3 separate regions of the Homo sapiens genome follow, and regions 1 and 2 are each linked to region 3. Evidence: fine-mapped expression QTL. A gene starts in region 3. Each other region holds a variant in brackets. All regions are shown on one strand. Distances are between the middles of the regions. Region 1 overlaps ARIH2 (ariadne RBR E3 ubiquitin protein ligase 2). Region 2 has its middle 6.3 kb from the start of USP4. Region 3 holds the start of C3orf62 (chromosome 3 open reading frame 62).

Evidence for each region. PIP is the estimated chance that this variant, and not a neighbour inherited with it, causes the effect.
Region 1: its variant is the best candidate, but not a certain one, in a credible set for the expression of C3orf62 in whole blood (TOPMed, PIP 0.89).
Region 2: its variant is the best candidate, but not a certain one, in a credible set for the expression of C3orf62 in monocytes after R848 (Quach 2016, PIP 0.77).

What each region holds. Positions count from the first base shown.
Region 1 is chr3:48,975,650-48,978,408 of GRCh38, forward strand. All of the region lies in intron 11 of ARIH2 (ariadne RBR E3 ubiquitin protein ligase 2), which reads left to right. Among named protein-coding and RNA genes, the nearest start is that of P4HTM, 13 kb to the right of the region's middle. The variant A/G (reference allele first, on the strand shown) is at 1,599.
Region 2 is chr3:49,344,957-49,347,715 of GRCh38, forward strand. No RefSeq gene overlaps it. Among named protein-coding and RNA genes, the nearest start is that of USP4, 6.3 kb to the left of the region's middle. RefSeq lists enhancers at 459-578, 669-758. The variant A/G (reference allele first, on the strand shown) is at 1,253.
Region 3 is chr3:49,276,122-49,278,880 of GRCh38, forward strand. It overlaps C3orf62 (chromosome 3 open reading frame 62), which reads right to left and starts at 1,111. Exons shown (of 3, transcript NM_198562.3): 1 at 306-1,111. The coding sequence starts at 751. It overlaps USP4 (ubiquitin specific peptidase 4), which reads right to left. Exons shown (of 22, transcript NM_003363.4): 21 at 2,693-2,759; 22 at 1,023-2,330. The coding sequence ends at 2,172. RefSeq lists an enhancer at 725-794 and a silencer at 935-1,134.

The DNA.
Region 1 (2,759 bases), 300 kb before region 3:
CATCTCCTGGGTTCAAGCAGTTCTCCTGCCTCAGCCTTCCAAATAGCTGGGATTACAGGCATCTTCCACCACGTCTGGCTAATTTCTGTATTTTTAGTAGAGATGGGGGTTTGCCATGTTCGAGGCTGGTCTCGAACTCCTGACCTCAGGTGATCTCCCTACCTTGGCCTCCCAAAGTGCTGGGATTACAGGAGTGAGCCACTGTGCCCGACCGAGAATTTTGCTTTGTAAGGGCCTATGCAAATGCTATTTCCAGGAACCCTCTTTTCTTTATTTTTTGAGACAGAGTCTCAGTCTGTCGCCCAGGCTGGAGTGCAGTGGTGTGATCTTGGCTGACTGCAACCTCCACCTCCTGGGTTTAAGCAGTTCTCCCACTTCAGCCTCCTGAGTAGCTGGGATTACAGGCACTCACCACCACACCTGGCTACTTTTTTATATTTTTAGTAGAGACGGGGTCTAACCATGTTAGCCAGGCTGGTGTCCAACTCTTGACCTCAGGTGATCCGCCTACCTTGGCCTCTTAAAGTGCTGGGATTATAGGCATGAGCCACCGAGCCTGTACTTTTTTTTTTTTTTTTCCAAAGATGGAGTTCTGCTCTTGTCGCTCAGGCTGGAATGCAATGGTGTGATCTTGGCTCAATGCAACATCTACCTCCTGGGTTCAAGCGATTCTCACTCCGCCTCCCCAGTAGCTGCTATTACAGGCGCCCACCACCACACCTGGATAATTTTTATATTCTTAGTATAGATGCGGTTTCACCATGTTGGCCAGGCTGGTCTCGAACTTCTGACCCCAGGCAATCCGCCTGCCTCGACCTCCCAAAGTGCTGGGATTACAGGTGTGAGCCACCGCTCCCGGCCCCAGGAGCCCTCTCAATCAGAGTGGTCATGCCAGGATCTTAGACAGCAACATTGACTCTGCAGTGCCAAACGAAGATAGGCCATGGGTAGTGGCATATTTCTTCTGTGGGGCCACATTCTTTCGCTCTCTTTTTCTTTGTATATATCAGAGAGAGAAGTGTATCATACACTTAGAACAATGCAGAAGACACAGAGTTTAAAGAATAATGACAAACATCCCAGCACCCACCACATTCCTAGTGCCTAAGAAGCCCCCTGGGTGTCCATATCCCTTGACACCCAGAGTTCACTGCCATCTCACGAGAATCACTTGAACCCCGGAGGTGGAGGTCACAGTGAGCCGAGATTGTGCCACTGAACTCCAGCCTGGGCGATAGAGCGAGACTCTGTCTCAAAAAAAAAAAAACTGGCTGGGCGCGGTGGCTCACGCCTGTAATCCCAGCACTTTGGGAGGCCGAGGTGGGCGGATCATGAGGTCAGGAGATCGAGACCATCCTGGCTAACATGGTGAAACCCCATCTCTACTAAAAAAAAATACAAAATTAGCCAGGCGCAATGGCGCACTCCTGTAGTCCCAGCTATTCGGGAGGCTGAGGCAGGAGAATCGCTTGAACCAGGGAGGTGTAGGTTGCAGTGAGCCAGGATCGCACCACTGCACTCCAGCCTGGGCAACAGAGTGAGACTCCGTCTCAAAAACAAACAAACAAACAAAAAACTGCCATCTCTTTCTTTGCTGT[A/G]TGTTTTATACCACCTATATGGGCAACCGTAGGGAATGTGGTTTTTTGTTTTGTTTTGTTTCGTTTTTTGAGATGGAGTCTCACTCTGTCACCCAGGCTGACAGGCTGAGTGCAGTGGTGCGATCTCGGCTCACTGCAACCTCCACCTCCCAGGTTCAAGCAATTATCCTTGCTCGGCCTCCTGAGTAGCTGGAACTGCAGGCACATGCCACCATACCCAGCTAATTTTTGACAGAGTCTCACTCTGTCGCCTGGGCTAGAGTGCAGTGGTGCGATCTCGGCTCACTGCAACCTCCGCCTCCTGGGTTCAAGCGATTCTCCTGCCTCAGCCTCCCAAGTAGCTGAGATTACAGGCGTCCGCCACTATACCCAGCTAATTTTTTGTATTTTTGGTAGAGACGGGGTTTCACCTTGTTGGCCATGCTGGTTGTGAACTCCTGATCTCATGATTAGCCCACCTTGGCCTCCCAAAGTGCTTGGATTACAGGCGTGAGGCACCGTGCCCGGCCTGTATTGTTCTTTAAAATGGTAGCAAGCACACCTAGCTAATTAAGGAGAGGGCATTGTTGCCACTATTAGGTGAAGGCTCCCAGGAGGAGAAAAATTGAACAACCTCTGGGTCTCCGGGTTTTGCTTTGGCTTCCCTAAAATGATTCAAGAGCCTCATTTTTGGGGAAGTCAGTAAGCCAAGTTATCCCTGGAGAGTGAATCCTGGGAAACAGGATTTACCATTGTCAGGGTCTGGAAGAGGCAGAATAGGCCAGATATAAAATCTAATAAGGTATTATTAGAACAATGTGTGTTCTAGACAACCAGGAGGACTTCAGACAAGTTTTGCTTCTCATAGCAGCCTTGACACAGATATAACAAGGCACATAGCCCATGTGCTCATGGAATGCAGAATATCAACAGGCCATTGTTCATCCAACAAAACTGTGGTTGGCTTCTCTCCATTAGACTGCAGTAATTCTTTGAGCATCTAACAATAATTTTTTGAACATATAGGGGATTTTTTTTTTTTTTTTTGAGACACAGTCTCGCTCTGTCACCTAGGCTGGAGTGCAGTGGTGTAATCTCGGCTCACAACCTCCGCCCTACAGGTTCAACCAGTTCTCGTGCTTCAGCCTCCCAAGTAGCTACTGGCATGTGCCACCACACCTG
Region 2 (2,759 bases), 69 kb after region 3:
ACGCCACTGCACTCTAGTCTGGGCAACAAGAGTGAAACTTCATCTCAAAAAAAGGAAAAAAAAATTTAAAAATTTAAAATAAAACAATTAGCCTGGCATGGTGACGTGCACCTGTAATCCCAGCTATTAAGTAGGCCAAGGTGGGAGGATCTTTTTAGCCCAGGAGTTTGAAGTTGCAGAGAGCTGTGATCCTATGATCGTGCCACTGCACTCCAGCCTGGGTGACAGAGCAAGATCCTGTCTCAAAAATAAAACAAAAAAGAGAACTGGAAACAATGAACATCTGCCTGCGTGTTCCTGTTGTGGTAGTGACCTAGGGACTTGGGAGGAAATGACAAGGGTGACTGATTCAGCTCAGAGACATCTTGGCACCAGAGCTGTGTTCTATGTTGAGCCACTTTATCCTAGAGAGAACCATAGGCCCGGTAGGACACCAAGATCCCAGAAGTGGACAATCCATCCATTACCAGAGGACCTTGGGCCACAAGAACAGAAGAGAAACCAGGAAGGGAGCTAGAAGAAAACCTGGCTTATTGGTCACATACTAGTTGATCTTGGACTGTGATGTCTAATTAAAGATTCATAATGTTGGCCGGGCGCGGTGGCTTACGCTTGTAATCCCAGCACTTTGGAAGGCCGAGAAGGGCGGATCACGAGGTCAGGAGATCGAGATCATCCTGGCTAACACAGTGAAACCCCGTCTCTACTAAAAATACAAAAAATTAGCCGGGCGTGGTGGTGGGTGCCTGTAGTCCCAGCTACTCAGGAGGCTGAGGCAGGAGAATGGCATGAACCCGGGAGGCGGAGCTGGCACTGAGCCAAGATTGCGCCACTGCACTCCAGCCTGGGTGACAGAGCGAGACCCTATCTCAAAAAAAAAAAAAAAAAAAAAGATTCATAATGTCAGGCCGGGCACGGTGGCTCACACCTGTAATCCCAGTACTTTGGGAGGCCGAGGCAGGTGGTTCACCTGAGGTCAGGAGTTTGAGACCAGCTTGACCAACATGGTGAAACCCCATCTCTATTGAAAATACAGAATTATCTGGGCATGGTAGTGCATTCCTGTAGCCCCACCTACTTGGGAGGCTGAGGCAAGAGAATAGTTTGAACCCAGGAGGCGGAGGTTGCAGTGAGCCAAGATTGCACCACTGCACTCCAGCCTGGGCAACAAGAGCGAAACTCCGTCTCAAAAAAAAAGATTAATAATGTCTGGGTGTGTGAACTTTATGCTTTTTTTTTTTTTTTTTTTTTG[A/G]AACAAGGTCTTAGTCTGTCACCCAGCCTGGAATGCAGTGGCGCAATCTCCGCTCACTGCCACCTCCGCCTCCTGGGTTCAAGGGATTCTCCTGCCTCAGCCTCCCTAGTAGCTGGGATTACAGGCACCGGCCACCACGCCCAGGTGATTTTTGTATTTTTAGTAGAAACGGGGTTTCACCATGTTGGCCAGGCTGTTCCTGAACTCCTGACCTCAGGTGATCCACCCGCCTCGGCCTCCCAAAGTGCTTGGATTACAGGCTTGAACTACCACGCCTGGCCTTTAAGCTTTATTTTATTCCAAATCATAAGGTTTTTGTCTTAGCTGCTACCACAGTTTTCTTTACACCTGATAGGACTTGGCTCTCCCAAGTTATTCTTGGTCCACACTTGGCCAGCACTAACAGAGCACACGTGGCAGTATTCACAAATATTAGACATATTTTAATTGGAGGTGGCAACAGGGGAGAAATATTTTTGGTTCCTTCTCACCTGTGCCTCCTTAACCTGCCCAGGGGACTGTGAAAAGAAAAAGATTCTAGAAGCACACTTTAGAAGAATTAAATGTCTTCTCAGTGATTTCTAACCTCTGTTATATAAGGATTAGGTTCTTGCAGAAGATAATAGAGGCAAAAAACTGAACAAGTCTCACAGAGAGGAAGTGGGATCACTTTTTTTATATGGAGGAGTTGTGCCAATGGACAGATTCCATTCTGGTTATGCCACTTGTGTTGATGGCCAGCCCTCTTCGGGCAGAGGGTGTGGCAGCCTGGGCCCAGGTGCCGCCAGTGTCTTGTCTTCCTCCTGTAATTCTATTACCATCACAGTCTTAACCATGAACCAGTATTTAACGTTAATTTGCGTGTATCCTTTGCCCTTTCCACAGTGCGAATTCTCAGTAGGCATTTCTTGCATAAATGAAAGAAAGAATGATCCGGCTATTAGTCATTTCTTCACTGGACTAATAGTACTTGAGTATTATGTGCTCATGGTCCCTACCCTCCAGGGTTCACAGTGTGGTTAGGGATGAAGGATGGTTACATATGTAATACAGTATTGTATGTTGTGTGGTAAAAGTGTCACAGGGGCCGGGTGCAGTGGCTCACGCCTGGAATCCCAGCACTTTGGGAGGCTGAGGTGGGCAGATCACGAGGTTAGGAGATCAAGACCGTCCTGGCTAACACCGTGAAACCCTATCTCTACTAAAAATACAAAAAAATTAGCCCGGTGTGGTGGTGGACACCTGTAGTCCCAGCTACTTGGGAGGCTGAGGCAGGAGAATGGTGTGAACCCGGGAGGCAGAGCTTGCAGTGAGCCGAGATCGAGCCACTGCACTCCAGCCTGGGCAACAGAGCAAAACTCTGCCTCAAAAAAAAAAAAGTGTCACAAGAACATGAAGGGTCATGCTTGCAGATACTTCCCTGGGAAGGAAACTTAAGCAACTAGTGTAGAAAGCAAAGGCATACTTAATATTCCTTTTGGCCTTTGGGGGTATATGATGACATCCA
Region 3 (2,759 bases):
AGGTTATTTTTAAAACCCGGTTATTTTACATCCACTACCCCTTTGGGTACTGCAAAGTGGTTTCCATGACTGGTTTTTGACATCAACGATTGACAACTAGCCCCTCAACTGGAACATATACACAAAATATAACTGTTTCCTAGGCCAGATTCTGAAGAATGTCTGTCAACTCCCCAAATGCAGTCACAGAGCTGCCAAGAGGAGGCAAGAGCACTGTCATGAACTAAATCTAGGATCTTCAACAACTTTTTCAGAAACAAGAATCCCCTTAATTGTAGCTGTTAAACCATCAAAATTAGAATCACCTTAAATTTTCTTTTCTCCAGTTTTCCCCCTCTCCTGCAGTTCTCCAAGACTCTCTTTCAGGTGCCAAAATGGAGGAATGCATCAATACATTTTCCTTGCTGGTTAGAGGTTTTCTCTCGGGGCACAGAGCATGTGGTTTTGCATTTACCGGGGCATGGTTTGTTGCAAAGGCAGGGTTCTCATTCTCAGGAGCACATGGGACAGCAGCAAAAGGAGCAGCAGAAGAGCAGGCTGCCAGAGGATGTCTTCTGCAGAGGAGCCTGTGCACGGGCAGCGAGAAGGAGAGCGGCGCGGCGCTCAGTTCCAGCCTCTGCTGGCCTGTGCACTCCTGGGAATAACTAACTCCTTCAAAGGCCCGGTCAATGGCTGCAGTCAGTTCCTTTCTGCATCTTCTTAGTTTTTCAGACATTTCTCCTAAAAGCGACCATGTCTTTATGTAATGCATTGGAAATGCACAGGACAACACAATAATGTTACAAATGAGGCTGCAAACTACCCCTGAATGGCCACGATTTCCTGGAGCTTGGCCCTGGCTATAGCAGGACCCACAACCCTCGGGCTTTCCTCCTGGAGTAGGCGGTTCTCGGCTCTCGCGGAGGAACCCGCCATCTGCCAGAAGCCCCAAAGACGCCCCGCCCCACTTCCCACAGCTTCCTGGCCCGCCCCGCCGCTGCCTCCCGCCCCACCGCGGCTCCCAGGCCGCTGGCCCTACCGGCACCCCCCCTTTGGCGAGTCGGCAGCCACGTCCTTGTCCTCACCCGCAGCGCAGTGACGCCGACCCATCCAACGGTCATCGCATGCGCGTGCCCCGCGCAGGCCCCAAACCCCCACGGATTAGGTTGAAGGTCAGACAAAAAATCCCGGACCCATACGTCCGGTTCCTTAAGGCCTTGCCCACACGCAGCGGCTGGCCCCGCGGTGGGAGTGGGGACGGGGCTTTCGAATGGGGGCCCCGGGAAGAGTCTTGGCAGGGATGAGGAAAGAACCCGTTCTAGAAAGCATCTGGGTAACACCAAAATGTATTACTACCCTAAATCGCCATGAACTGGAGCCCTTTCCCGGCTAACTCCCACAAAGATTTCTGTTCTCAAGCCAACATGGAAACAACTAGACGGGACACAGCACCGGGCAGTTTTATGTACTGACTTCCTTTAAGCGTTATCTAATAAAAAGTGTGTTATCTAATAAAAGTTCCACACAGTATTTAACCGTCTTAATTCATCTAGGGTAGCAGGGGATATAACAGAACTGCTGGGTTCCACAGGAGGTTGAGGGGCCAGGATCCCCAACACTAGATATCTTCCTTAGCGGGGAGAAAGCTGGAAATTACAAGATGACTCAACGGAGAAATGGGCTTCAGTGGGTAACTTTCAGAAAATTATAAACCCATATCAGTGCACATAGCGAGGGAAAGGGGAGTTTACTTGAGGTTTGGGTTACTGTGAGCAGACTACTTGGGGTGACTAGTATTGGCATCAGAACCAGAAATCCAGGCGCTCAGGGCAGCCCTGCAGGTGGGGTGGGTCTCCAGGCTGCTCCATACTCAGCGCCTGTGTTCCTCTCCATTCTTCGGGATCCATCAGACATACTCCATTGAGTACCCCCATCCCACCCCCTTTTCAGCTTCACAGGTTTCACAGAAATTTCTCACCACCTGTTTAAAAATAAAAATAATTCAGCCTCTTGACATAGCTTCTTCTAGGTAAACGGTCTTCTTTTTTTTTTTTTGTTTCCTTCTGCTCATAAAAGAAGGGTATTTCCTTGTCTGGTTTTTAGACAGAACACTAGCAGTCTGCAGAGTGTCAAAGATGTTCTCCTGGGGGATTACACTGGCGCTACAGGGTGGCAGGATCGTGGAGTCAGCATTAGTTGGTGTCCATGCTGCAAGCCTCATCATCCCCAAAGCCCTGCTGAGAGCTGCTTGGTCGTGTCCCTCCATCAGAGGAACCAGAACTGCTAAGTGAAGGTGTCTTATAAAATTCATCATCTCGACGTTGGTAAAATAGCACATAAGCTGCTTTAGTCTGAAATACAAGAGGGGGAAAGACCATTCAGTGCTTGGAAAAATCACCCATTTTCCCCAGCTTTTCTCTAGCTGTCCAAAACCCTCAAGGATCTGCCATATCCACACAGAGGAGACCCTTCCACCTGAGGATGGCTGCCCCTGCCAGGCAGCAGGAAATGGAAGGAGCCTTGTGCAGAGAACTCTGAGGAGAGCTGAGCTTCTCATTTATGAAGGTCCCTGAAGGAATGCCAGCCAGCTCTGTCACACCTAGCTCCCACTATCACATCAGGATGATGAAATAACCAACTAGCCTGATAGAGGCTCTTCCCAGCTTTAATCCATAACGACATGAGGAAGAACCACATATCATGGCCTACTCACCACTATCTGATCCTCAGAGGCCAGGGACACGTTGCTATCATCAAAGTAATACCATTTACCATTCAGT